Homo sapiens: one gene and its partners. The protein of the gene in region 1 binds, or shares a complex with, the protein of each later gene. Each region holds a gene or a part of one and is shown in the gene's direction. Other genes may lie near its edges. The genes, in order: CUL3, KBTBD2, KBTBD8 and KBTBD4.

Region 1 (7,035 bases):
TTGGCCGGGCACAGTGGCTCACGCCTGTAATCCCAGCACTTTGGGAGGCTGAGACGAGTGGATCACTATATCAGGAGATTGAGACCATCCTGGCTAACACGGTGAAACCCCATTTCTACTAAAAATACAAAAAAATTAGCCGGGCGTGGTGGCGGGCGCCTGTAGTCCCAGCTACTCGGGAGGCTGAGGCAGGAGAATGGTGTGGACCCGGGAGGTGGAGCTTGCAGTGAGCTGAGATCGCGCCACTGCACTCTAGCCTGGGTGACAGAGCGAGACTCTGTCTCAAAAAAAAAAAGAAAAAAAAGATGAATAGTTATTTAAAAGCTCTTATTTTCAAACTTTAGTGTACATGTTTACTCTTTGAGACTGGGAGTGGGATGGCACTGGAAGACTTAATTAACCAGCAGTATGCCAGCAAAGCTTATGATAAACATGATGAATCTTTCTGGTTATAATTTTACATTAAAACAAATCAAAAAAGAATGTCCCACTGTATCTTGGAGTCAGATGCTTCTAAGCTTTTGACCCTCACTGGCGTGTATATACTTGTTCTGCTATTTTTTGGAGTACATTGGCACAGTTTGAAAAACATTGCTTACAGATAATGTTTTAATTTAGTATTATGTAAATACCAAAGGCTTTAAAGGATATAATTCAGACTATATCAGTCTTTCGTGTAATGAGAAATTACACAAAATGCTAATAGTACTTATTTTATTTAGGCTGATTTATTATAAACACTGTAGAAACCCAGCTAAAAGCAAAAACACTCTTTTCTTCTATGTTTAAAAAATATATATATTTTTAAATGGCAGATGGAAAGCCAGAAATTTTTAGCAGAAAATAGTGCTTCAGTATATATAAAGAAAGTAGAAGCTAGAATTAATGAAGAAATAGAACGAGTGATGCACTGCCTTGACAAATCAACGGAAGAACCAATTGTAAAGGTGGTTGAAAGGGAACTCATTTCCAAGCACATGAAGACTATAGTAGAAATGGAGAATTCTGGGCTAGTACATATGTTGAAAAATGGAAAGACAGAAGGTAAGTGTTACCGATTGAAAAATAATTAAATCCTTACTCTGCCTTATCGATATTTTTAAAATTTTCCTACAATTAAAGCAGATAATATCAGCTTTCAAGAAGTTTTGGTGTGTATTGTTAATTTGTCTCCATTGTTAACTTTAATGGGATTTCCAAGCTTGATTCTGTCTTACTAACGAAGATTTTAGATATTTCTAATGAATTGAGCATTTCCTGTCTTTAAGTCTCATTTTACATTTAATCCAGAAGATAAAAGGTGTAATAGTATTGGTGAGCCCAGTGAGCTCCTCATTCATTCCTGTACTTCCTGTATACCAAAGGGTGTGGGCTCTCTTTAGTCCTACATACTCTCTTGGGGTTTTGTGATTCTCTTAAAACCTTAAGTTTCCACCTTAAGATTTTTGTAGACTTTCCTTTGGGATTTAGTTGTGACAGGGTGCTGAAAATGCAAAAATATTTGTGTCTTCCATATTGACATACTTAGATAAATTAGATTGGTTTGGGGAACACTGAAGTTACAGAATGGAAAAGGAGGAAGGAGGAGTGCATAAAAGTAAAGAACATTTTTGAGATAACTAACATTTGTTTTTTATAGCTATTTATTTTCCTGGGGTAAAAGAAAAATTGTGACAAGTATCCTAGAAGAAATTACAAGTTAAAAGAACAATAACCATATCCTCTATTCTTAGTTTCTGATGCTTTGTTTTAAAACTTTGCCTTTACCACTTATATGGTATTAGGAAATAAAAAACATGGTACTTTGTTCTCCTGCTTCCTAGACGAAATCTAAGCAATATTTTATCCACTTCTTTTTAGTAAAAGAAATACATATTGCCTGTTGGGGTCATGAGCTATGTAGGGAATGAAAAAATTTTTTAAAGGAGAATTATAAAGAGAAGGAGGATACAAGAGAAAGGAAAACGAAAGCTGGTGGGAAGTTGAGCCATGTTTATCTCTAGTGGAATCCTTACCTTGTGTTTTAAAATTGTTAAATGTTTGTATATATGAGAAATCCCTGAAAAGTTATATGTAATTTAAAAAAACAAAAAAAAAACAAAAAAAACTAGAGAGGCTTCCTTTTTAAAAGACTCTTCAGTTAAACCTTTTTTGTAAAAGCCAAAAAAAAAAAAAAAACAGAAGTCATCTAGTATATTTGCTGTGTTTTCTAAAATTGAGGTCCAAGTCAGGGGTTGGCAAGCTTTTTTGTTGTTGAATAAAATGGCTTGTGAGCCACGCAGTCATAGTGAGAAAATAGTCCTAGACAATAACAAATGAATAATCCTGTGTTTCTATAAGACTTTATTTATGGGCCCTGAAACTTGAATTTCATATAATTTTTATGTGTCACTAAATAGCATTCTTTACAGTTTTTCCTCAGCCATTAAAAATGTGAAAACCATCCTTAGTTCATGAGCTGTACATAAATAGATGGCAGGCTGTATTTGCCCCACGGGTTCTAATTCGATGACCCTTCTCTAAGTGGTCTCTGGTAGACTGGGACTTTATGCAAAGCATTTGCCCTGCTTAAACAAAATGAGTATTGATAAATTATGTAATGTACTGTTTAGGTATTGAATGAATGCTTTCTTACCTACCTTAGGGGATAGGAAATGTTTGATGGAGAGGTTGTTGGGCATACCTGAATTACAGCATCTCTGTAACCTGTGTGGAGATGTATGTAAAAGGTGTCAGGTATGCCTATCATGGCGAGCACTTACGTGAATGAAGGAATACCATAATAGTACTCACCAGAGTTCTCCTTTATTTAGTACCTTAGGTTTCCAACAACACAGTAGCTATCTGTGATTCTAAATTAAATTTTAAAATCCTGCTTTTGTCCAGGCAGGGTGGCAAACGCCTGTAATCTCAGTATTTTTGGGAGGCTGAAGCAGGTGGATCGCTTGAGCTCAGGAGTTTAAGACCAACCTGGGCAAATTGGTGAAACCCTGTCTCTATGAAAAATACAAAAATTAGCTGGGCATGATGGCACATGCCTAGTCCCAGCCACTTGGGAGGTTGAGGTGAGAGGATCATTTGAATCTGGCTGGGGAGGTCAAGGCTGCAGTGAACCAAGATGATGCCACTGCACTCCAGCCTGGGCTACAGAGGGAGATCCTGTCTTAAGAAAAAAAAGGTGGGGGGGTTAATTTTTCTGAGCTTCCGCTAGAAACCTGGTGGCAAAATATCCTAATTGTGGTAGGCCCTGCTCTTGGAAAAAATGTTGCTCTTGTTGAGAATATAGCAGAGCCAACTTCACCATTATGAAGCCAAATTCTCATAAATCAGAAAATGAAAAACAGTTTTCTCACTGTGAATGGAGGATAAATTGGATTGATTATTAGATGCAGATAGCACTATGAAATGAAGTTCAGAGGTATCTTTTTTTTTTTTTGAGACGAAGTCTTGCTCTGTCGCCCAGGCTGGAGTGCAGTGGTGGGATCTCAGCTCACTGCAAGCTCTGCCTCCCAGGTTCATGCCATTCTCCTGCCTCAGCCTCATGAGTAGCTGGGACTGCAGGCTCCCGCCACCACGCCCGGCTAATTTTTTGTATTTTTATTAAAGACAGGGGGGTTTCACCGTGTTAGCCAGGGTGGTCTCGATATCCTGACCTTGTGATCCGCCCGTCTCAGCCTCCCAAAGTGTTGGGATTACAGGCGTGAGCCACCGTGTCTCGCCAGTATCTTATTATTTTATTAAGTGTATGTAGAAATAATGATATTTAATTTTTGCATGCCAAATTATTTTCATTTACTTTTACATTCCCTTTACCCCAACATTTAAATACAATGAAATTGTAGTAATTTATGTACAACTAAATACACAACATGTAATATCTAAGCAAAACTTACAACAACATAGGATTGAAATAGACAAGTTGTGAACCATTTTGTTAGAAGTATTTGGTGTGCCACATTTACTGTAGTATGTGTCCATAGATTGTTGCATTTGTAATACCTGTTCTAAATATGGGAAACTTGGTTGTAATTTATGCTAAGTATGTGAGAAGCTATAAAATTGCCATGTGTAGGTTACTATGGGCATATATTATTAATGGAAACTAACTAAAATTTGCTGCTGAAAGTCACTGAAATAAAGTTTAGTAAAACTTTGTAAATCTTGCTTTGAAATATTTTAAAAATGTATACAACTTTAAGCTCTAAACTACTCTTAGAACTGTAGACCAAGGTAGGCAAATTAGGGCCTGCCTGGTGCACTACCAGTTTTGTTAAAAAAAAAAAAAAAATCAAGAGTATTTACACATGAAAATTTATATAAATTTTCAGGGTCCATGAAGTTTTATTTGAAACATAGTCACACTGAATAATTTATGTATTATCTGTGGCTACTTTCTTGCTACAGCGTCAGAGTAGTTGAGTCAGAGCTCTATGGCTCACATTTTAAAATATTTATTATCTGATACTTTACAGAAAAAACATTGGTCAGCCTCTGATCTAGAAACTCTTAATGCCATTTTAAAAAGTTATTGATTGTAAAACTTTTAAAATTATCATTGTAAAGTTCTGACACTGTGTTCTCCCAGTAAGTTGTTATTGCAAAGAAACACTAGACATATGGGAAAACTGTATTTTAAAATCTGTATTTTAGTCTTGTGAAAAATGATATTAAAAAATGGATAGGATCCAGAGTTTTCATTCTAAATTTAAAAAGTATAGTGAGATAGACCAAATTTTGAAGTACAGATATTGGCTTAGGATGCTACCTGGGAAACATTAGGGATTGCTCTCAGGAAAATATTGAAGAAGTGGTATTTATATTATACATTTCATAAAAACTTTACCTGAGGTGTAATGAAGTAAATCCTAGTATAGTTCATTTGATTTGTTTTCATGATTATCAGTTAAACCTTTGGAAATACCCATAAGACTTAAACTGGCTTTAAAATTTCTTCCTCATTACAGGGACTACCAATTACCTCTTAATTAGTGACCCTTTTTGTAGACGTTTTGTAGTGTCATTAGGTCTGCATTAGAGTTATGTAGGATAAAGTATTTATGAACTCAAAACTGCAGTTGCCATGTTTTTGTGACATTACTTGTTTATTATGGTTTTTGACATCTCTTCCATGTAAATTTAAATTTGCTAGGACATTTAATTGATGGTTTCAAAGCATCTCATCTAAAAGTTGTGTTTTATAAATTACAATAATAACCATTAACTAGCCTACTTCTTCATGTTTTCATATCAATATATGTATATTTTTAATAGTCATGTGGTCAGCAAATGGGGGTAATGGAGAAATAAGCTTCTCTCAGTATTATAGCGTGAACAGAGATTCGTGTTTTTTTCTTTAATCTTTAATGTAGCCAATTTGTGTTTTCTGATTTGTAGACCTTGGTTGCATGTACAAGTTATTTAGTCGTGTGCCAAATGGTTTGAAAACAATGTGTGAGTGTATGAGTTCCTATTTGAGGGAGCAAGGTAAAGCTCTTGTTTCTGAAGAAGGAGAAGGAAAGAATCCTGTTGACTATATCCAGGTAAGTAAACCCAGAAGATTCTCTGTGTTTATGATAAAGGCATTTTGACAAGTGCTAAAAAGGCCACTTTTACCATGCTGTGTATTGTGTACTTTCAACTTAATTGTCCCAGTAGTAAATTAATATTTGTAATTATCCTACATATTTTAGGATTTTGCAAGGTGTGCGTATTTATATCAGGGAGCTAAAATTCAGCTGCTACTTTTCATTTAACTTCTTTGATGAAGACCTTGTTTAAATAGCCTCAATAGTGAATGTGAGGTTCTTTGGTATGCCTTAGTGTTTGTATACTGTAGTATATTGGAAAAAACAACTGGTTTAAGTATTTTTTGTTTGAAAATGTTTTGTTTTCAAGGAGTACTATGAATAAATTATGTGCCATGTTTTGTGTTTTAACATAATCAGCTTTTTTTGGTACATTTTTTAAGCTAATTTTTTTCACTGGCTAACCCATTCCATCAAGACAGGAGAATGAGAAACAGTGAGGAGGTTCTTTGGTTCGTTTGCATTGTATTAATACATATATGGAAGTTATAATACTTCTCTCATTGACATTTTTAATAGAGGCTTAGATATAGGCTTGAAAATAATATCAAAACTGTAAGTTTAAAAATGAATATACATGTTTATTACCAGCAAAGTTAAGATAAACATACATGGTCATAAGTGTATTATTTATGGAAAAATTATTATAATGTGTCCTAAATTTTGTTTTTATTTCTAAGGGCTTATTGGATCTGAAGAGTAGGTTCGATCGCTTCCTCCTGGAATCATTCAACAATGACCGTCTCTTTAAACAAACTATTGCGGGTGACTTTGAGTATTTTCTCAACCTCAACTCCAGGTCTCCTGAATACCTCTCATTATTTATTGATGATAAGCTGAAAAAGGGAGTCAAAGGGGTAAGTAGTAATGCATTTGAAAATAACATTTAATTTTATTTAAAGATATAAAATTATATGTAAAATTAGGACATTTCACAGATAAAAATTAAGCATGACCCATTGCTGTGCTTAAATGGGTGCCATGGTCTATTAAAAAATATTGTTTGAAATACTTGACATGCCCAAACGTAGTTAGACATTTCACTTAATGTGTAATTGGCTTCAAAAACAAGCAACTGGATGGGCTTGGTGGCTCATGCCTATAATCCCAGCATTTGGGGAGGCCAAGACAGGAGGCTCTCTTGAGGCCAGGAGTTTGAAATTAGCCTTGTTAACTTAGTGAGACTCCATCTCTACAAAAAAAAAGAAAAAAGAAAAAAATTAGTGGCACACAGTGGTATACACCTGTTGTCCCAGAAGCTGAGGCAGAGGATCACTTGAGCTCAGGAGTTCAAGGCTGCAGTGAGCTGTGATCGCGTGACTGCACTCTATGCTGGGCGACAGAGCAAGACCTTGTCTCAAAAAAACTGAACAACTGTCCAGGTATGGTGGCTCATGCCTGTAATCTCAGCACTTTGGGAGGCCGAGGTGGGCAGACCACCTGAGGTTGG
Region 2 (7,035 bases), on another chromosome or scaffold:
CCTGACCTCGTGATCCACCTGCCTTGGCCTCCCAAAGTGCTGGGATTACACGCGTGAGCCACTGTGTCCAGCCTACAGGTAAGCATTTTTTTACTCAGTTACATACATGAGTTGTAGCTTATTGGTTTATTATGTGGTTTATTTTGTGAGGAAACATTGTTAAACATTTTTTATTTATGTTTTTGAGATGGGGTCTCGTTCGGTCACCCAGGCTGGAGTGCATTGGTGCAGTCATGGTTCACTGAAGCCTTGAACTCATGGGCTCAGGTGATCCTCCTGCTTCAGCCTCCTGAGTAGCTGGGATGACTAAAGGTGTGCACCACCATGCCCAGCTACTATTTTTATTTATTTATTTATTTATTTATTTTTATTTATTTATTTTTTTGAGACGGAGTATCATTCTGTCACCCAGGCTGGAGTCTAGTGGCGCGATCTCAGCTCAGATGCAAGCTCCGCCTCTGGGTTCATGCCATTCTCCTGCCTCAGCCTCCCGAGTAGCTGGGACTACAGGTGCCTACCACCACCCCCGGCTAATTTTTTGTATTTTTAGTAGAGATGGGGTTTCACCGTTGTTAGCCAGAATGGTCTCGATCTCCTGACCTCGTGATCCACCCACCTTGGCCTCCCAAAGTGCTGGGATTACAGGCATGAGCCACCACTCCCTGGGCCAATATTTTTATTTTTTGTAGAGACACGATCTCACTGTGTTGCCCAGGCTGGTCTCAAAATCCCAGGCTCAAGCAATCCTCCTGCATTGGCTTCTCAAAGCCCTGGGATTACAGGTATGAACCACCATGCCTGGCCCAGTAATGTCTTTTATCTATGTAATTTTCTTATTACGTGTTTTAGAAGGTAAAAGGTTTTTTTCTTTTTACAAAATGTGTAAGGGAAAAACAATAGGATTTGATTACCCAGTAAACTAAGTAGTTTTGTGATGGGAATGTAAATCTGTTAATAAAAGAGATAGGTGAAAATTTTATACTGGTTTCGTGTGTTTTACTACCTAATATACCTGAGAATTTTGATTTCAAGTTAAAGTAATTTTTTTTTGAGACGGAATTTCACTCTTGTTGCCCAGGCTGGAGTGCACTGGCACAATCTTGGCTCACAACAACCTCTGCCTCCTGGGTTCAAGTGATTCTCCTGCCTCAGCCTCCTGAATAGCTGGGATTACAGGCATGTACCACCATGCCCAGCTAATTTTTGTATTTTTAGTTGAGGTGGGGTTTCACCACATTGGCCAGGCCGGTCTGGAACTCCTGCCATCAAATGATCCACCCGCCTTGGCCTCCCAAAGTGCTGGGATTACAGGCATGAGCCACCACTCCCAGCCAAATTAAAGTAATTTTTAACAGTGTTTATTGAATTTAAGTGTTTCAATTTTTTTTTTTTTTTTTTTTGCTTAGAGCTTAGATATACTAATTTTTCATGGTACTATTTTTCACAGAAAACTTGGTGGAAATTATGATAAATATTTATAATGGCTATGTGACCATATTGAGCAATTAAGGAGAAGTATTTAAACAAAACAAGTGATGGTTGATATATTTATGTATGACAAACTGTTTTACTCTTTATTTCCCCATCATGTTCCCTTTTTAAATTTTAAGAGGAATATAAGAGTTTTTTTCTTCATTTCATCTCCTGTTTTGGAATAACACTGTATTTCACTAAGTTTCTTCAGAGGGAGAACCTTTAGATCAAAGGTTAAATTTGGAGAGCACTGTTCGTGATATTTGTTAAGTACTTAATAAATATGCACTGAATGAGTATGCATGACACTGGTTGAATGCCAACACCTGGGTATAATTCTGGAAACCAGAACTCAGTTCATGCTTTATGTAGTCTCCTTCCTTTTTAATCTTCCATAGGTTGAGTACCCTTTATCCAAAATGATTGGGACCAGAAATCCAGTTCAGCCAGTTTCAGATTTTTTCAGATTTTAGGATATTTGCATTATATGTTAGATTTACATCATCCCTAATCTAAAAATCTAGACTCTGAAGTGCTCCCGTGAGTATTTCAAGTGTCATGTCAGCACTCAAAACATTTCAGTTTTTGGAGCATTTTGGATTTTGAATTTTTGAATTAGGGATACTCAACTTTTTGTGTGACAGGGTCTTGCTCTGTTGTCCAGGCTGCAGCACAGTGGTGAGATCACAGCTCACTGCAGCCTCGATCTGGGCTCAAGTCATCCCCCAGCCTTAGCCTCCTGAGTAGCTGGGTCTGTAGACATGCATCACCACACTTGGCTAATTATTTGATTTTTTTGTAGAGACAAGATCTTATGTTGCCCAGGCTAGTCTCAAACTCTTGAGCTCAGGCACTCCTCTCACCTAGGCCTCCCAAAGTGCTAGGATTACAGGTGCGAGTTACAACACCTGGCCAACCTTTACTCCTTATTACACTAACTTTATCGTTAGTGTTCTACTCTACCCACAACTCTGGGGAAACTGAGGCTGGGGTAGCTTGCTGGTGCACTAGTAATTCCAAACTTGAACGGGAGAAATGCTTATTGGAAGCACTGTCTTTATATAGTTTGCAAGTTGTCATTACTTTTTATTTTTAGAGACATGTCTTGTTCTGTTGCCCAGGCTGGAATGCAGTGGCATGCCACCATGCAGTGGCATGGTGATAGCTCACTGCAGTCTCAAATTGCTGGGCTCAAGTAATCCTCCTCCCTGTAATCCCAAAGTGCTGGGATTATAGGCATGCACCAGCACATCCAGCTAATTTTTTGTTGGTCCTTCTTTTAAAAGCAGGCATTTCTCAGAATTACTAAGGCATTAAGGAATTTTAAGAAAATCTGATTCCAGAATACTTTGTTACTGTAAATATTGACACTGCTCCTTAACATTTTTTTTCTGCCATTTTAACGAAAACCGTATACTACTTCTGCTTGCTCAAATGCAAAACAGGACTCTGCCTCTTAGACTGTGTTGCCCTGGAAGCCTGAGATGGGGCATTCTATGACTACCAATATTACTTTCACTATCAACCACATGAAGTGATCATATGTTTCAGTACCAGATGGTGTACTGATACTTTATATATATTCTCATCTGATCCTTACAGGGCTCATTTGAGGGAGATAACTATTATTTCCCCATTTTATATAAGAGAAAATTGAAGTTTAGAGATGTGAAGCTTCTTTCCTAATAAGTAGTTTCCAGGTACTAATTGGCCAATTAAGTTTTAAATCCAAGCAACCTGACTTGTCAGTGTAAACAGTTTCTAGTTAATCACTGTGATGCTGAATAAGTATAGTGGGTAGCACATCTGATTCAACTGAGATCTACCTTCTTAAGAAAAAACAAATCTAGGAAGCTTACAGTGGCTAAGATGGGTCATTTAAATGTAGGTGATTTATAACTGCACGTAAGTCTATTTCGTGTTGCTTTGTTATCTTACCTCTCGATAAGAATGGCAAATAACTACTCTTACTCATTGTGCATGATTTTCTGGTTTTATGTGACTGTGTTCAAATTGAGGAAACCAGAATCCAGTTATTCAACAACAATAATTTTCTCTATACTATGATTTATTTACATTTTTTCATATAGTTCTCTCAATTATATATAAAGTCTAGGAAAGTATGACTTATGTGTGAATTTCCTTACCTATTCTTTAAGGCTGTTTTGTTTTTTAAGAGCCTATTTATTGTTGTACTGCTGGTTCCTAAATAGAACAGTTAAGTAGGCCACTGAGCAGGAAAAAATACTGCAAAATTTTATAGTCTTCTGAGTTTATTACTACCAGAAGACCTTATCTCAGCCCAGATGTGTGTATCTGAAAATAAAAATTACACTATGGGCATCTGATTAATATACTTACGTCTTACATAAAAGTAAAATGTGTCTGTCCTGGCCCTATCAGCCTGTTTTTTTTTTCCTTCTCATTCTAGGTAGAAGATGTGTTACAACGTTGTCGAGAATATTTAATTAAAAAAATAAATGCAGAGAATTGTGTACGATTGTTGAGTTTTGCTGATCTCTTCAGTTGTGAGGAATTAAAACAGAGTGCTAAAAGAATGGTGGAGCACAAGTTCACTGCTGTGTATCATCAGGACGCGTTCATGCAGCTGTCACATGACCTACTGATAGATATTCTCAGTAGTGACAATTTAAATGTAGAAAAGGAAGAAACCGTTCGAGAAGCTGCTATGCTGTGGCTAGAGTATAACACAGAATCACGATCCCAGTATTTGTCTTCTGTTCTTAGCCAAATCAGAATTGATGCACTTTCAGAAGTAACACAGAGAGCTTGGTTTCAAGGTCTGCCACCCAATGATAAGTCAGTGGTGGTTCAAGGTCTGTATAAGTCCATGCCCAAGTTTTTCAAACCAAGACTTGGGATGACTAAAGAGGAAATGATGATTTTCATTGAAGCATCTTCAGAAAATCCTTGTAGTCTTTACTCTTCTGTCTGTTACAGCCCCCAAGCAGAAAAAGTTTACAAGTTATGTAGCCCACCAGCTGATTTGCATAAGGTTGGGACCGTTGTAACTCCTGATAATGATATCTACATAGCAGGGGGTCAAGTTCCTCTGAAAAACACAAAAACAAATCACAGTAAAACAAGCAAACTTCAGACTGCCTTCAGAACTGTGAATTGCTTTTATTGGTTTGATGCACAGCAAAATACCTGGTTTCCAAAGACCCCAATGCTTTTTGTCCGCATAAAGCCATCTTTGGTTTGCTGTGAAGGCTATATCTATGCAATTGGAGGAGATAGCGTAGGTGGAGAACTTAATCGGAGGACCGTAGAAAGATACGACACTGAGAAAGATGAGTGGACGATGGTAAGCCCTTTACCTTGTGCTTGGCAATGGAGTGCAGCAGTTGTGGTTCATGACTGCATTTATGTGATGACACTGAACCTCATGTACTGTTATTTTCCAAGGTCTGACTCATGGGTAGAAATGGCCATGAGACAGACTAGTAGGTCCTTTGCTTCAGCTGCAGCTTTTGGTGATAAAATTTTCTATATTGGAGGGTTGCATATTGCTACCAATTCCGGCATAAGACTCCCCTCTGGCACTGTAGATGGGTCTTCAGTAACTGTGGAAATTTATGATGTGAATAAAAATGAGTGGAAAATGGCAGCCAACATCCCTGCTAAGAGGTACTCTGACCCCTGTGTTAGAGCTGTTGTGATCTCAAATTCTCTATGTGTGTTTATGCGAGAAACCCACTTAAATGAGCGAGCTAAATACGTCACCTACCAATATGACCTGGAACTTGACCGGTGGTCTCTGCGGCAGCATATATCTGAACGTGTACTGTGGGACTTGGGGAGAGATTTTCGATGCACTGTGGGGAAACTCTATCCATCCTGCCTTGAAGAGTCTCCATGGAAACCACCAACTTATCTTTTTTCAACGGATGGGACAGAAGAGTTTGAACTGGATGGAGAAATGGTTGCACTACCACCTGTATAGTGGGGAAGTTCAGGGAGTGCACGCCTGAGTTATGTGCTTTGTCATTTTCTTTGCTAAACAAAAGAGGCTATGAAAGAACTAAATATGAGTACATAAAATTCTATCTTTGATAAATTTTATTTTTATGCCCTACTTAATATTTGCATCAGTATAATATATATCAGTGAGTCTTACAGAAAGATATGCTTCCATAATATGAAATAGATTATTCAATAATTGAGAAACTTTATGTGTAATCATGAGAGTATAAGAATCTGGATTATCTAACATTGTTAGCCCTGTGTATGTACAGTTCAAAAAGTTCATTTATAAAAGTAGTTTCCTGTTCCTAGTGTGATGTATCACAAATTGTGCTGAGGTTATTTTAGTATGTGTGTTTCATTCCCGTGCTTCTGTTCTGAAGTCCTGGAATACAGTTTTCAGTGTAATTAATTCAACTGCACTTAACACTAATGTCCGTGTTGGTATAGAAATGTCTAAATCCTATACTCTAGTTGAGGAAGATCTTCCATAATTTTATGGTATTACACAGGGAAAGCTATGACTGCAGGATCAGTCTAACTATACTATTAGGTGCATGTATTCTCTTTTCACTAACTTATACTTGTCTATCTAGAATACAGGTCTTCCAGTCAGCTGGTCATTTACCAGGTGTGGACTTAAGTTGCTAGGCTTGCAGTAAGAATTGCCAGCCACTCATTGTGCGGGTCTGCGTGGAGCTTTAATCAGAAAAAGCCTCCACTTTCTGTATTATGTTAACATTGGCTCATGCATATAACTATCTGCTGCTGATGTAGTTCTCCATCTTCAAGATTTAGAGTGGGTTAACCAGGTCATTACATCTTAATTTAATAACAAGCATTACTGTAGAGTGATTGTGTATAGATCTGTTAGCTGTCAGGGTGTGTTTTTTTTAACCTGTTGTGTGCGTGTGGGGGTTAGGATTAGTAAGGTGAACTGTTCAGGAATTCTCTGCACTAGCTGTGCAGAAGAGCAGATAACTAGCGCTGCTCTGGCATTAATCCCAGGAACCACTAGCAGTAGTGGGGCGCCGCCAATCTAACATGAGCACAGGTGCTTCATGACAAACATTACTAGCATGTTCAACTGCACCATGTTCTGGCACTGTATTTTGAATGACATTAATTTATTAAATAAATTGTATATATTCAATATCTATTTTTCTTTTGTTATGGGAATGGTCTGCTTTTTAAATTTTGATTTTGCTAGGTCAAACTTAGCTAGTAATAGGTGGTTTCTTCCAAATTTTGTTTGATGAAGATTGAGAGATATGCATAGGCTTTCCTTAGGCTAGTGTCTTTCTACCCTGCTGGCATGTTAGAATCATCTGATTCTGATCATCATCTTTAGAAGCTTGAGATGATGCCTGAACCTCACCCCAAACAAAATGGTTTCTTTTTAGAGCACATCATTGATCATGTTTATAGACTTGAACTGCCCCTCCACTGCCTACTGAATGAAGTCCAGATTCCTTACCACATTTAAGGCTCTCTCTAATTTGGCTTTAAATTACCTTTACAGCCCTACCTTGCATTGTTTTTCCATAAGCCTTATCTTCTGATTAGGCTTTCGCT
Region 3 (7,154 bases), on another chromosome or scaffold:
AGAACCAGACATGTTCAATAGGGAGAAAATCCTACACTTCAATTTCAATACTCCATTTATTCCCAGACCTTTACATGCTGTTATCAAAAGACAGTTGGCTTTGGAGCCAAAGACCCCTAAAAGACTACGGGCAGGTTATTGAAATTCTCAAGGCTTTGGTCACTTCATTGTAACTTTGTTCTTAGAAAATTTAATTAAAAGGTGAAATTAAGTGCAATAAAGTAGGTAACACAACCATTAATTCCTTTTCCTTGTTCTATTCCTAAATTAAGCCCTATCAATATTAAAGTGAATGCTTTACCTTCTGGGTCAAGCCAAGATAAAGCAATTAGGCAAGAAAGTACTCCACATCACTTTTGCAAATAGTTCTATGGTGTATCCTCTTTGGATGCTCAGCTTAAATCCCACACCAGCTGAACAGAATTTCTTATCTCTTTCGAAATCCTTAATATTAATTGTTGGAAATACTTATTTTATGCTAACTAGGGGTTGCCCTTAGTTCTCATTTTCTAGTTGATTTTCATGGGAATAAGTTTTATTTTCACAGATAAACCATAAGATCCTTGAGATTAGGAATCTCATATCTCTACATCCATCTAATCTTTATCTATCTATCTATCTATCTATCTATCTATCTATCTATCTATCTAGTTTTGTATAGGAAACATTGATTCAGACAGTGCCTTCTTAGAATGCAGGTTGTGGGAGGAGGCAATCAATATTTCTGAGGAACTGAATATTACTGCCACTAGCTTCAAAGTCTTTTTTTCATGTATATGCTAAATTCCAAATACTTAAAAATTAATGCACATTAATATCCTCCAGTATGATCAAATTCAGTGATTCATGAAATGCAATCTTCTAGTTATTACCATGTTGAATCCTCATATAACCTCAAAGGGAATAAAAAACTAAAAATACAACAAAGCCCAGTGGTGCCCAATCAGTAAACCTAATGTTAGTATCTATTTAGAGTTTTGTATTTAAAGAAACTAAATCATGGGCAATATATAAAGTTTTAGAAATTTTAAAAAACTTTGTGTATCTGATGTCATATTAAATTTATATTGAATAATCACTTTTGTTGTTTCATTTATCTAGCCAATGCAGAAGTTTTAAGCAAGAAAAAAAAGTCACATTGAAAATATCAAGAAGGTTGTAGCTGTAGGCTGAGAAGTATAAATATATAAGGATGTCAGTTGCTAAAAGGTATGAGTTTCAAGTATTCTGTCTTTACTTTCATTTTATATAGCTCTGGTCAATTTCACAGCCCCAACCAGTACTGAACAGGGAAATTGGAAAACTGCAGAATTGATTTGCAGAAGTGAAGTTCTATTTTCTTTTACACCTTCTTCATCAGAGTTGCTATCATTCTTGTGTTGTGTGGTATTATTGAGAGTAGCCTGGGTATAGCTGATAATTGCTAAAAGTCATTCTCTTGAAATGAAAGCAGAAAAAAACAAGGAGCCTTCAATTTCTCATTTTCCAAATTTGATGCTTTCATAATCCTTCATTTTTGCTAGAATTTAAACGTAAAAACTTTTCTTCTCTCAAGCAACCATGATTATAGCAATTCTCTTTGCTTGTGATTCCTAGGTAAAAAAAAATATTAAAATAATAAAGCTCTAAGTGTCTAATTTGAACTAAATATAGGACCTTCAAATATTCTGGTTCAGTTTTTCAGTTTCCATCCTTAATTGATTTTACTTTAAACTTTAAATATAGGAGTAAATTGCAATATAGTACTTAATACCTTAAGATGAAAACTGGTTTACTTTTGCTGCTCTTTCCAGATGTGCAGTAGATTCAGGAGGTTTTTACTAAAATTCAAATTAGAGGTGTTTGAAAACAAAGCTGTAACCTTTGGCTATTTAGTATCAATCCTGAAAAGGAATCTCCCCAGTATTCTTACAGATCATTGAGAAAGAATTGTTGTGGTACAACTGACTGAATTTCGAGATCCTCCTACATATTCTGTGTTTTTTAAAAATGCATTTTAGTGATGATTAAATCTTTACTATGTAATGCCATCTGCCCAGTAGAATGGAGTCCATTTACAGTGTCATATAAATGGCAACTTTTTACCTATAATTTTTTTTCTATTTATTTTTAGATTGGCTTTTGTTCTTTGTATTCTGCTGCATCTCCAATTTATAAATCTTTGTGGGTCAAAGAATCAGAACACTGTCTTCTCACTAATCAAACAATATTGTCAAGTCTGTTTGTTACTAAGTTGAGAATTGAATTTTTAAAAAATTGGCCAAGTTTCTTAAGGCTTAAATAGATAGATGGCTACAAAACAACAACAAAGCACAAACAAAACTCCTCTATTTTAACAGATTTGAAAAGGTTGCCAGATAAAATACAGAACACCCAATTAAATTTAAATTTCAGATAAACAACAAATGATATTTCAGTTTAAATATTTCTCAAATAATGCATGCCCTGTATTTTTATTTGCAATATCGTCAGATGTTGTCAAACCCTAAGGATTAACGCCATTTTTTTCCTCAATACTAACCATATTGTCATAAAGTGCTACCATTTTAATAAATTAGAAAGCAACATCATAAAAACGAAAAAATAAAGTTATGAGTAACCAAAATTAAGTCAATTTCATCTATCCAGAAACGTGCATACAGGACATTCACAAAGAAGAAATTATAAGTGCATATGTATATGCAGAAACCCCAGTCATGAGGAAACACCACTTCCTGTTAACTTGCATGGGATTATAGTATTTTAAGTTCTAAATTTCTCAGCAGACCTAGAAGACAGAACTGAATTGTTTTTCATAATTATTTCTCTTTCTCAATCACAATTTAAATTCCAAGATCCTTTCTTTATCAAGAAGTTCAACGGTTTGATCTTTTCAGTGCTAGAAAAGTTATGCACACGGGCTAACTATATGTCTACTAGAAATTCTTCCCATTCGCTGATACTTCCTTACATTTTAACATCTAGAAATAGCATTCCCAATGTTAGCTCATTTGCACCTTACATTTATTTTTAAAATATGAAACATCTATAATGTGCCAGGCACCCCGTTAGATGTTAGAAACACAAGATGAGTAAATAAAAATTCGTCAACAGTAAAATTTTGATTTTCTTTCCAAAAGGTTGCAGCCTATGAAATCCATGGAGTACGGATTACTATTACTTCACGTTACAGATGAAGGATCTAAGCGCTCAGGGGTTGAAAGGTCTTATGTCAGTTCTCACATATAGTGACTAAAGAGCCAGGGCTTCAGTAATCATCCCTGGCTCCGGGCTCAGGGCATTCCGGTATTTTTTCAAAGGAAATTCCGGAATACTTAGTATTGTATCCCCTCCATTTCCCAAGAGCAAAAAGTAAAGCATCTTGGATCCCCTTGTAATGTTCACGTGAGGAACAGGTGTTCTCTGGGTGTGCTAGAAAAGCAAGGCACCAGTGGGAGTTGAAGATCCTAAGCAGCCGCTGTAACCAGACCAAGTTAATCTGTGGAAACCAGAGCACCCGGCCAAGGCGATGCTATTTCAATTGGGTGTCATAGGTGACTCATCAGAGACGCCTTGCTTTTGGGCCTTGTGATATTTTTCTTCAGGGTGGGACGTCAGATTTCCTTTGCATTTTTGGACAACAGCCCTCCTGTCCATTTCCACATTTTTCTGGTTTTACAGCTCTCACGCAGAGCTTGATTTCATACCGGAAGCTAGTCACTGGCAGGAAGTTTACGGAAGAAGAAAAAGGTAAAAAAATGTGCCGGGGGCCAGGAGAGAGGCCTAAAATGGGGAAATTCGCACTTGAAGAGCTTTCCCTACCCCAGCCCCTCAGAATGACAGTTCTCCTCCGCCAGAAGACTACCTCTCCCGGCAGGCACTGCGCGCTCGACGGCCACAGGCTGGCCAGCTCCCTGCTCTCCACCTCCATCCGAATCAGCCAATAGGAATTCCCGGCTTGGGCCTCCGCCCGACCCGGACCACGCGGGAGCCGGGGCAATCAAACTACATTTCCCGACACGCATGTGCTCGCGTCGTGGCCAATCAGCGCCAGGAATTCGGAGGCTAGGGGTGGAGCCAGATGCACAGGACACCCCATTGGCCAGGGGAAGCTTAGAAGAGCCGGAACCCGGGAGCTAGAGAAGCGAAATGACATTTCCTTTTTAAATAGCTGGAGTCGGGGCCCCATCGAGAAATGGCCGCGTCGGCAGGTGGGTCGTGTGGTGGCCAGGGCGGCGTGGAGGGAGGTGAGGGGGAAGGTGGGCCGGGGCCGGCCACAGGCAGTGGGATGAGGACGTAGCGGTGCGGAGCTAGAGGGAAGGATGAAGCGGTGGAGGGGAATGAGAAGAGGGAGGATGAATGGTGCGGAGGGCGGTGGGCGGTCCGGCGGGACCGGGATGGGGAGGCTGGGTACCCGCCGGCGCTGCGCCCCAGGAGGCAGCGGGAGGCGGCTTGAGGGGGCACCGGCGGCCGCCGTTGTTCGAGCTTCCCTCGTGAGGCTCTGCCCTCGGCTCTCGGCGGAGTCCGCGCAGACGCCTCTCCTGGGCTGCGAGCGCGTTTCCTCCGCGAGCACGGGTGCCGGGCTCGCCGGGCTCCGCAGGAGCAGGCTGGCCTTTGAACTTGTTCCGCCGATCGCGCTCCGCCCTCTGTCTCCCAGATCCTTAACTCGCGGTCCCACGAGGTCGTGCGTATATCCACAGACATTTGTATATATCTTGTAGGGGGAAAAAGCCTAGCAAGCAGACACACAAACAGAAAAATCCCGCGATGCCGTAACTGGCTCGGCACTTCTTGTAGTTGTACGATTTTTCTCCTCCTAGATTTAAGTAAGTCTTCCCCAACACCGAATGGGATTCCATCTTCAGACCCAGCCAGCGATGCCATGGACCCCTTCCATGCTTGCAGTATTCTTAAGCAACTCAAAACAATGTACGATGAAGGACAGTTGACAGACATTGTAGTGGAAGTGGATCACGGGAAAACATTTTCCTGTCATAGAAACGTTCTTGCTGCAATCAGCCCTTACTTCAGGTATGATGATGGTAGGAACTTCTGTTGGTATCTGCACCAAGCTCCCTTTCCCCCTCAGTATTGTCCACTTGATGTTTATATTGAGATGCGATAATGAAATGAAACCAATGACTTTGTTTCTTGAGACTAGAAAACAAGTCCTCTCTTAACTAAGACCTTCTTTTGACTTGAGGGATTCTTCTAGATTTCGGGTGATTGCTTTTTAAGTTAGTGGGCCTGTGTGTGTGTGTTTGAGGTAAATGACCAGAAAATCTAGACTTGTGCTGGTCAGTATGGAAGCCAGTAGCCATGTGTGGCTGTTTAAACTTAAATTATAAGTTAAATAAAATAAAACATTTAGTTCCCCAGGTACACTAAATACTTTTTGAGTGCTTGCTGGTCACCTGCAGCTAGTGGCTGCCATATTGGGCAGCACAGAAATACAGCATTTTCATCATTGACAATTTTATTGGACAGTGCTGATCTAGAATTTCTTTCAAAAAGTTATCCATAATGCATGTTTCTTTAGTGTATGGGACTCTTTTATAAAATAGTTTAAAACATGTAGCATGTTCCTTCAAAAACAAATTACCACTCAATAGATTGTTTAAATGCTATGGGGGTCAAAGCAAGAATGAATATAGTTTCTTTGTGCCTAAGGCCCCAAATTAATAATATCCAAGATTTCTAGAAGTATGTTAAACGAAGTTTTTGTTTTTACTTATATTGTCTACTATAAAACTTTTAAAAGTAAAATTTAAAAACTTGGGTCTGAAAAATAACTTCCTACTTTAAGATGAGTGGAAAAGGCAGTTTTCTGCATGGGCTTAACTTCTTTTGTGTCAAATGCTCACTTTAAGCCTTTCAGTATTCACAAGTGGTGCATAAATAATAGTAAAGTTATCAACCACACTCTGAATGTGATTTTTCCTTTTGAAGGTGCTTACCTTTATAGGGCACATAACCATATAATGTTCCAACAGTAGTTTCTGGTTCCTCTTTCTCAGAATACTGGGTTAAATATAGTCACTTCAGTCTGATGCTTGTGATGTAACCGTTTAGACTTGCCTAGGGTAGGTCATTGGACTACTAAGTATTAATCATCGCAAGACAGTGAGCTGGAAAGAAAAAAAAACTCACATATGCAGAAGGTATGAAGTTTGGCCTGGTAATGGAAACTTCTAGTGAGATTCACTTACCCAGATTATCTATTAGATATGGTTAGGTCATTTGTATGTTTAAATATATGTCACAGTTACTACTTATCAAGCTCTAGGCTAAGCTTACTTTACATGTATTGCCTTATATAATCTTTATAATCCTATCTCTGCATAGTTGTTGTTCCATTTTACTTATGAAGAAGCTGAGGCTCAGTGAGATTGAGTTTTAATAACCTGCCTAAATCATCTATCCAACAAGTAAATGGCAGAGGCTACATTTGATTACAGAGCCAGGCTTCTTAGTAGCCATATGACTCTTAAGGAACAAGAGTTGGTACAGTTTCCTTTAAAACATTTTTATTGTATATTGCATTTGAATAGTAAAAACAAAAACAAAACAAAACAAAACAAAAACTGCAAAGTAAAAATGTCTATATCTTACTGAAATTTAATAATCTGGATTATATCATTTAAATGTCATACTTATGTATGCTTACTAAGTATACTTATTAAGTATAATACTTAGTAAGCATACATAATAAATATGATATATGTATACATATTAAGTATACTTATTAAGTATAATACTTAGTAAGTATACTTATTAGTAACTTTACATAAGTATGACATTTTCACCTTGCAGTTTCATTTTTTATTTTTGAAGACCTGGAAAAAAATTTTACTTTAAAAGAAGTATGCTATGATAGATTTCTAATTTTCTTGATTCCTTAAAATCTTAAATTCTTTAATTTTGTTAAGTCAATTTTTAAAAGGAGTAAAAAATACTTGAGAAATTTTCTGGGGATACGATATGTGCATTGAAATAAAGATATTTGGCTAGAAACCTCAAGGATTAGAATTTGATCTCTTGCTAGAGGTTTTTGTACTGAAGTTTCTTGGTACCAGCGCTGCTTCCTGTGTGGGATGTAGAAAATCGTACTTAATGTTTCTACGTCTTGCATCACTAGTGGAAGAATTAGAACGGCTGGAAATCTGGAATGGCTG
Region 4 (4,309 bases), on another chromosome or scaffold:
GCTGAAACAGGATTGCTTGAGCCCAGGAGGTTGAGGCTATGGTGATGGTGATTGCGCCATTGCACTTCTGCCTGAGCGACAGGGTGAGACCCTGCCTCAAAAAAAAAAAAAAAGCAATTTTAGGTTAATTTCATGTATATGTGTATGTATGCATGTACACATATACACATGCCCAGCAGTAGTCTAATAAAGTGGTTCACATCTTTAAAGTCCCTTACTCTGAATTTCTCTTTCGGATTGTCATTGACCATGCCTTTCCTCTGGCTCTCACAGATGGAGTTCCGTGTTCTCAGAACCCAACAGAGGCAATAGAAGCCTGGATCAACTTTAATAAAGAGGAAAGAGAGGCTTTTGCAGAGTCACTCAGGACAAGCTTGAAGGTAAGGCAAATCTCTTAATTGTTGAGACTGCATACTCTCCATGCATTCTTGCCATCAGTTAATTTGGCCTCTTTTTTTTTTTTTTTGAGATGGAGTCTTGCTCTGTCGTCCAGGCTGGAGTGCAGTGGCGCAATCTCGGCTCACTGCAAGCTCCGCCTCCCGGGTTCACACCATTCTCCTGCCTCAGCCTCCCTAGTAGCTGGGACTACAGGTGCCCACCACCACGCCCGGCTAATTTTTGTATTTTTAGTAGAGACAGGGTTTCATCGTGTTAGCCAGGATGCTCTCGATCTCCTGACCTCGTGATCCGCCCGCCTCCGCCTCCCAAAGTGCTGGGATTACAGGCATGAGCCCCCGCGCCCGGCCTTTTTTTTTTTTTTTTTAAGACGGATTCTCACTTTGTTGCCCAGGCTGGAATGCAGTGGTGCAATCTCAGCTCGCTGCAACCTCCACTTCCCAGTTTCAGGCTATTTTCCTGCCTTAGCCTCCCAAGTAGGTGGGATTACAGGTGCTGCCACCACGCCTAATTTTTGTATTTTTAGTAGAGATGGGGTTTCACCATGTTGGCCAGGCTGGTCTGGAACTCCTGATCTCAGATAGTCTGCCTGCCTCTGCCTCCCAAAATGCTGGGATTACAGGTGTGAGCCACTGTGCCTGGCCTAACCTGGCCTCTTTGTGTGTCTGTGTGTGAGAGAGAGAGATGGGAGTTTCGCTCTTGTTGCCCAGGCTAGAGAGAGAGAGATGGAGTTTCGCTCTTGTTGCCCAGGCTAGAGTGCGATGGTGCGATCTCGGCTCACTGCAACCTCTACCTCCTGGGTTCAAGCGATTTTTCTGCCTCAGCCTCCCGAGTAGCTGAGATTTCAGGCGCCCACGACCACGCCCAGATAATTGTTGTATTTTTAGTAGAGATGGGTTTCACCATGTTGGCCAAACTGGTCTCGAACTCCTGACCTCAGGTGATCCACCCACCTTGGCCTCCCAGAGTCTTGGGATTACAGGCATGAGCCAATGCGCCTGGCCTAACCTGGCCTCTTTTTGATGGCCAGATTATGAATGGTCGTCTCTGTTTTTTGTTTTGTTTTGTTTGTTTGTTTTTGAGACAGAGTCTTACTCCGTCTCCCAGGCTGGAGTGCAATGGCATGATCTCAGCTCACTGCAACCTCCGCCTCTCAAATTCAAGCAATTCTTCTGTCTCAGCCTCCCGAGTAGCTGGGACTACAGGTGCATACCACCACGCCCGGCTAATTTTTGTATTTTTAGTAGAGACAGGGTTTCACCATATTGGTCAGGCTGGTCTCGAACTCTTGAGCTTAGGTGATCTGCCCACCTCGGCCTCCCAAAGTGCTGAGATGACAGGTGTGAGCCACTGTGCCCGGCCATCTCTTGTTTTTTTAATTTTTTGTATTTATTTATTTATTTTTGAATAAGTTATCTCTGGCTTGAAGTTGATATGAGCTGGGGAGAAGGATGTCTTTGTAACCCCAGTACCACCAATCTATGAGCTTTCAAAGTTCCTTGAGAACTACTGTCATCAAGTTAACAATCTTAATCACCCTTTGTCTGAAGCACTAGCTTATGAGAGTTTTTTAAAAGCTACAAGGATGAATACAACAGATTCTCCGCCCGGCATAAATTGCCTCAAAGAAAGTGACTAGAGGAGAGTTGGATGCCATACAGTAATTAGAGAGTAGTATGATAAAGCTAGGAACAAGTGTGAGGGCCAGGATCTTAAGGATATGTGTCTTAGCTGAGCCTTAGCCTAGAATTTAACAGCTGTCATATAATTTTAATTTTGCCAATAGGAAATTGGGGAGAATGTGCACATTTACCTGATTGGGAAAGAGTCATCTCGTACCCACTCGTTGGCTGTGTCCTTGCACTGTGCAGAAGATGACTCCATCAGTGTAAGTGGCCAAAACAGTTTGTGCCACCAGATCACTGCGGCCTGCAAGCATGGTGGAGACTTGTATGTGGTGGGAGGGTCCATCCCACGGCGCATGTGGAAGTGCAACAATGCCACCGTTGACTGGGAGTGGTGTGCTCCTTTGCCTCGGGACCGGCTCCAGCACACCCTGGTGTCTGTGCCCGGGAAAGATGCCATATATTCACTGGGTGGCAAGACACTGCAAGATACCCTCTCCAACGCAGTCATTTATTATCGCGTAGGTGATAATGTGTGGACAGAGACAACTCAGCTAGAGGTGGCTGTGTCAGGGGCTGCTGGTGCCAACCTCAACGGGATCATCTACTTACTAGGGGGGGAGGAGAATGATCTGGACTTCTTTACCAAACCTTCCCGACTCATCCAGTGCTTTGACACAGAGACAGACAAATGCCATGTGAAGCCCTATGTGCTGCCCTTTGCAGGCCGCATGCACGCAGCTGTGCATAAAGATCTGGTGTTCATCGTGGCTGAAGGGGACTCCCTGGTGTGCTACAATCCCTTGCTAGACAGCTTCACCCGGCTTTGCCTTCCTGAGGCCTGGAGCTCTGCCCCATCCCTCTGGAAGATTGCCAGCTGTAACGGGAGCATCTATGTCTTCCGGGACCGATATAAAAAGGGGGATGCCAACACCTACAAGCTTGACCCTGCCACTTCAGCCGTAACTGTCACAAGAGGTATTAAGGTGCTGCTTACCAATTTGCAGTTTGTGTTGGCCTAAGGCTGTGGGGAGGGGAGGAGAACTGCTCACTCCTTTTCCCTCCCCATACAAACTCAAAGTCCCCTGGGCCCCAATTCAGAGTTATGTTTTTTTTGGCACATACTAGAAAGGCAGTGCCTCAGCCCTTCCCTGAATCCATGGAGGTGTTCTGTTTGGGGCTTTTTAGACTGCTGCTGCTCAGCTGGTTGCTTGAACTGACAGTAGGCCAGCCTGTTCTCTGCCATTCCCTAGTCATCCTGTGCCTCACCACAGCTTGCTTAGAGCAAGCCTTTTCTCAGACCTTAGGCACAGCCTCTCCTCTTTACCTGATCAATGTTAAATGTAAGCACCCCTGATCCCAGGACATAAGGAAAGATGCCCAATTGTACTTTTGTTCTATAGCCTGTGAAATGGCTAGTTGATCATTTTTCCACAAAGAATTAGGTGTTAAGAGTTTTCCTTCAGGCTTTACTTAGGAGAATGGACTAAGCTGAAGGTGTACTTCACCAGCAAGAGTCAACTCTAGAATTCAGGATGTTCCTTCTATTGTTTTCTTATCCATCTGTCAGGAAATGTAACTTTGGTTTTATTTTTGGCTTATTCCAAGGGGTAAGCCAGAAAATAGAAATGATTATTTCTGATTAATAGCAGAAACTTTTTCAATCTCAAATATATAAGGTGTCTGCTCTTTTAAAAGCTCTAAGCTAAGTCAAGAGCTAGGAACTGTTGATACAAATAAAAGTTTTTGAAGGGATATGTGTGTCTGTGTTGAATTCCAAAGGGGTGACTTTGAAGGGGTGAGGGTGTTTCATTCCCTCAGGGGAACTCATTACGTACCATCACATGGCTCAGTCTGCAGCAGTCCTGACTGCAGCCCATGCTCCCACTTCTCCAGATAGGATCCCTACTCCACAGGGCCAGTGAGATTCAGATTCTGACAGTGGCAAAGAGCCAGAGGTGAGTCTCCTTTTTTCAAGTGCTAAATGTTTTTTGAGTTGTGGTGCTAAATATTATTAGGCACAATATTAGGTACATAATAGATTTTTGTTAAAATACTTCTTTAGCCCTATTCAAGAAAAGATGATAGCCCCATCCCTGTCCTGTATCCCATGAATACAAGCCACACTAAATCTTTTCCTTTCTAGCCACACAACAGTGTTATTTCAAGAAAACAAAACAAGTCAGAGAAAGAAAAATTACCTATTACCTATTGGCACATTTCTGTTACGTCAAGTCTGGGCTTAAGCCCTGTTGGTCCTGTTAAGCTCTTTTTGTTCTGTATCAAGC

Evidence for each region.
Region 2: CUL3 (region 1) and KBTBD2 share a complex: the UniProt entries of both Homo sapiens proteins name them as parts of the BCR(KBTBD2) E3 ubiquitin ligase complex.
Region 3: CUL3 (region 1) and KBTBD8 share a complex: the UniProt entries of both Homo sapiens proteins name them as parts of the BCR(KBTBD8) E3 ubiquitin ligase complex.
Region 4: CUL3 (region 1) and KBTBD4 share a complex: the UniProt entries of both Homo sapiens proteins name them as parts of the BCR(KBTBD4) E3 ubiquitin ligase complex.

What each region holds. Positions count from the first base shown.
Region 1 is NC_000002.12:224,505,363-224,512,397, reverse strand, and holds part of CUL3 (cullin-3), read left to right. Parts: intron 1-815; coding exon 816-1,044; intron 1,045-5,394; coding exon 5,395-5,540; intron 5,541-6,265; coding exon 6,266-6,442; intron 6,443-7,035. UniProt on the Homo sapiens protein: Core component of multiple cullin-RING-based BCR (BTB-CUL3-RBX1) E3 ubiquitin-protein ligase complexes which mediate the ubiquitination and subsequent proteasomal degradation of target proteins.
Region 2 is NC_000007.14:32,867,750-32,874,784, reverse strand, and holds the end of KBTBD2 (kelch repeat and BTB domain-containing protein 2), read left to right. Parts: intron 1-3,904; coding exon 3,905-5,440; 3' UTR 5,441-6,613; downstream 6,614-7,035. UniProt on the Homo sapiens protein: Substrate-specific adapter of a BCR (BTB-CUL3-RBX1) E3 ubiquitin ligase complex that acts as a regulator of the insulin signaling pathway, modulating insulin sensitivity by limiting PIK3R1/p85alpha abundance in adipocytes.
Region 3 is NC_000003.12:66,994,182-67,001,335, forward strand, and holds the start of KBTBD8 (kelch repeat and BTB domain-containing protein 8), read left to right. Parts: upstream 1-4,125; 5' UTR 4,126-4,174; coding exon 4,175-4,190; intron 4,191-4,799; coding exon 4,800-5,010; intron 5,011-7,154. UniProt on the Homo sapiens protein: Substrate-specific adapter of a BCR (BTB-CUL3-RBX1) E3 ubiquitin ligase complex that acts as a regulator of neural crest specification.
Region 4 is NC_000011.10:47,571,664-47,575,972, reverse strand, and holds the end of KBTBD4 (kelch repeat and BTB domain-containing protein 4), read left to right. Parts: intron 1-273; coding exon 274-380; intron 381-2,182; coding exon 2,183-3,043; 3' UTR 3,044-3,776; downstream 3,777-4,309. UniProt on the Homo sapiens protein: Substrate-specific adapter of a BCR (BTB-CUL3-RBX1) E3 ubiquitin ligase complex which targets CoREST corepressor complex components RCOR1, KDM1A/LSD1 and HDAC2 for proteasomal degradation.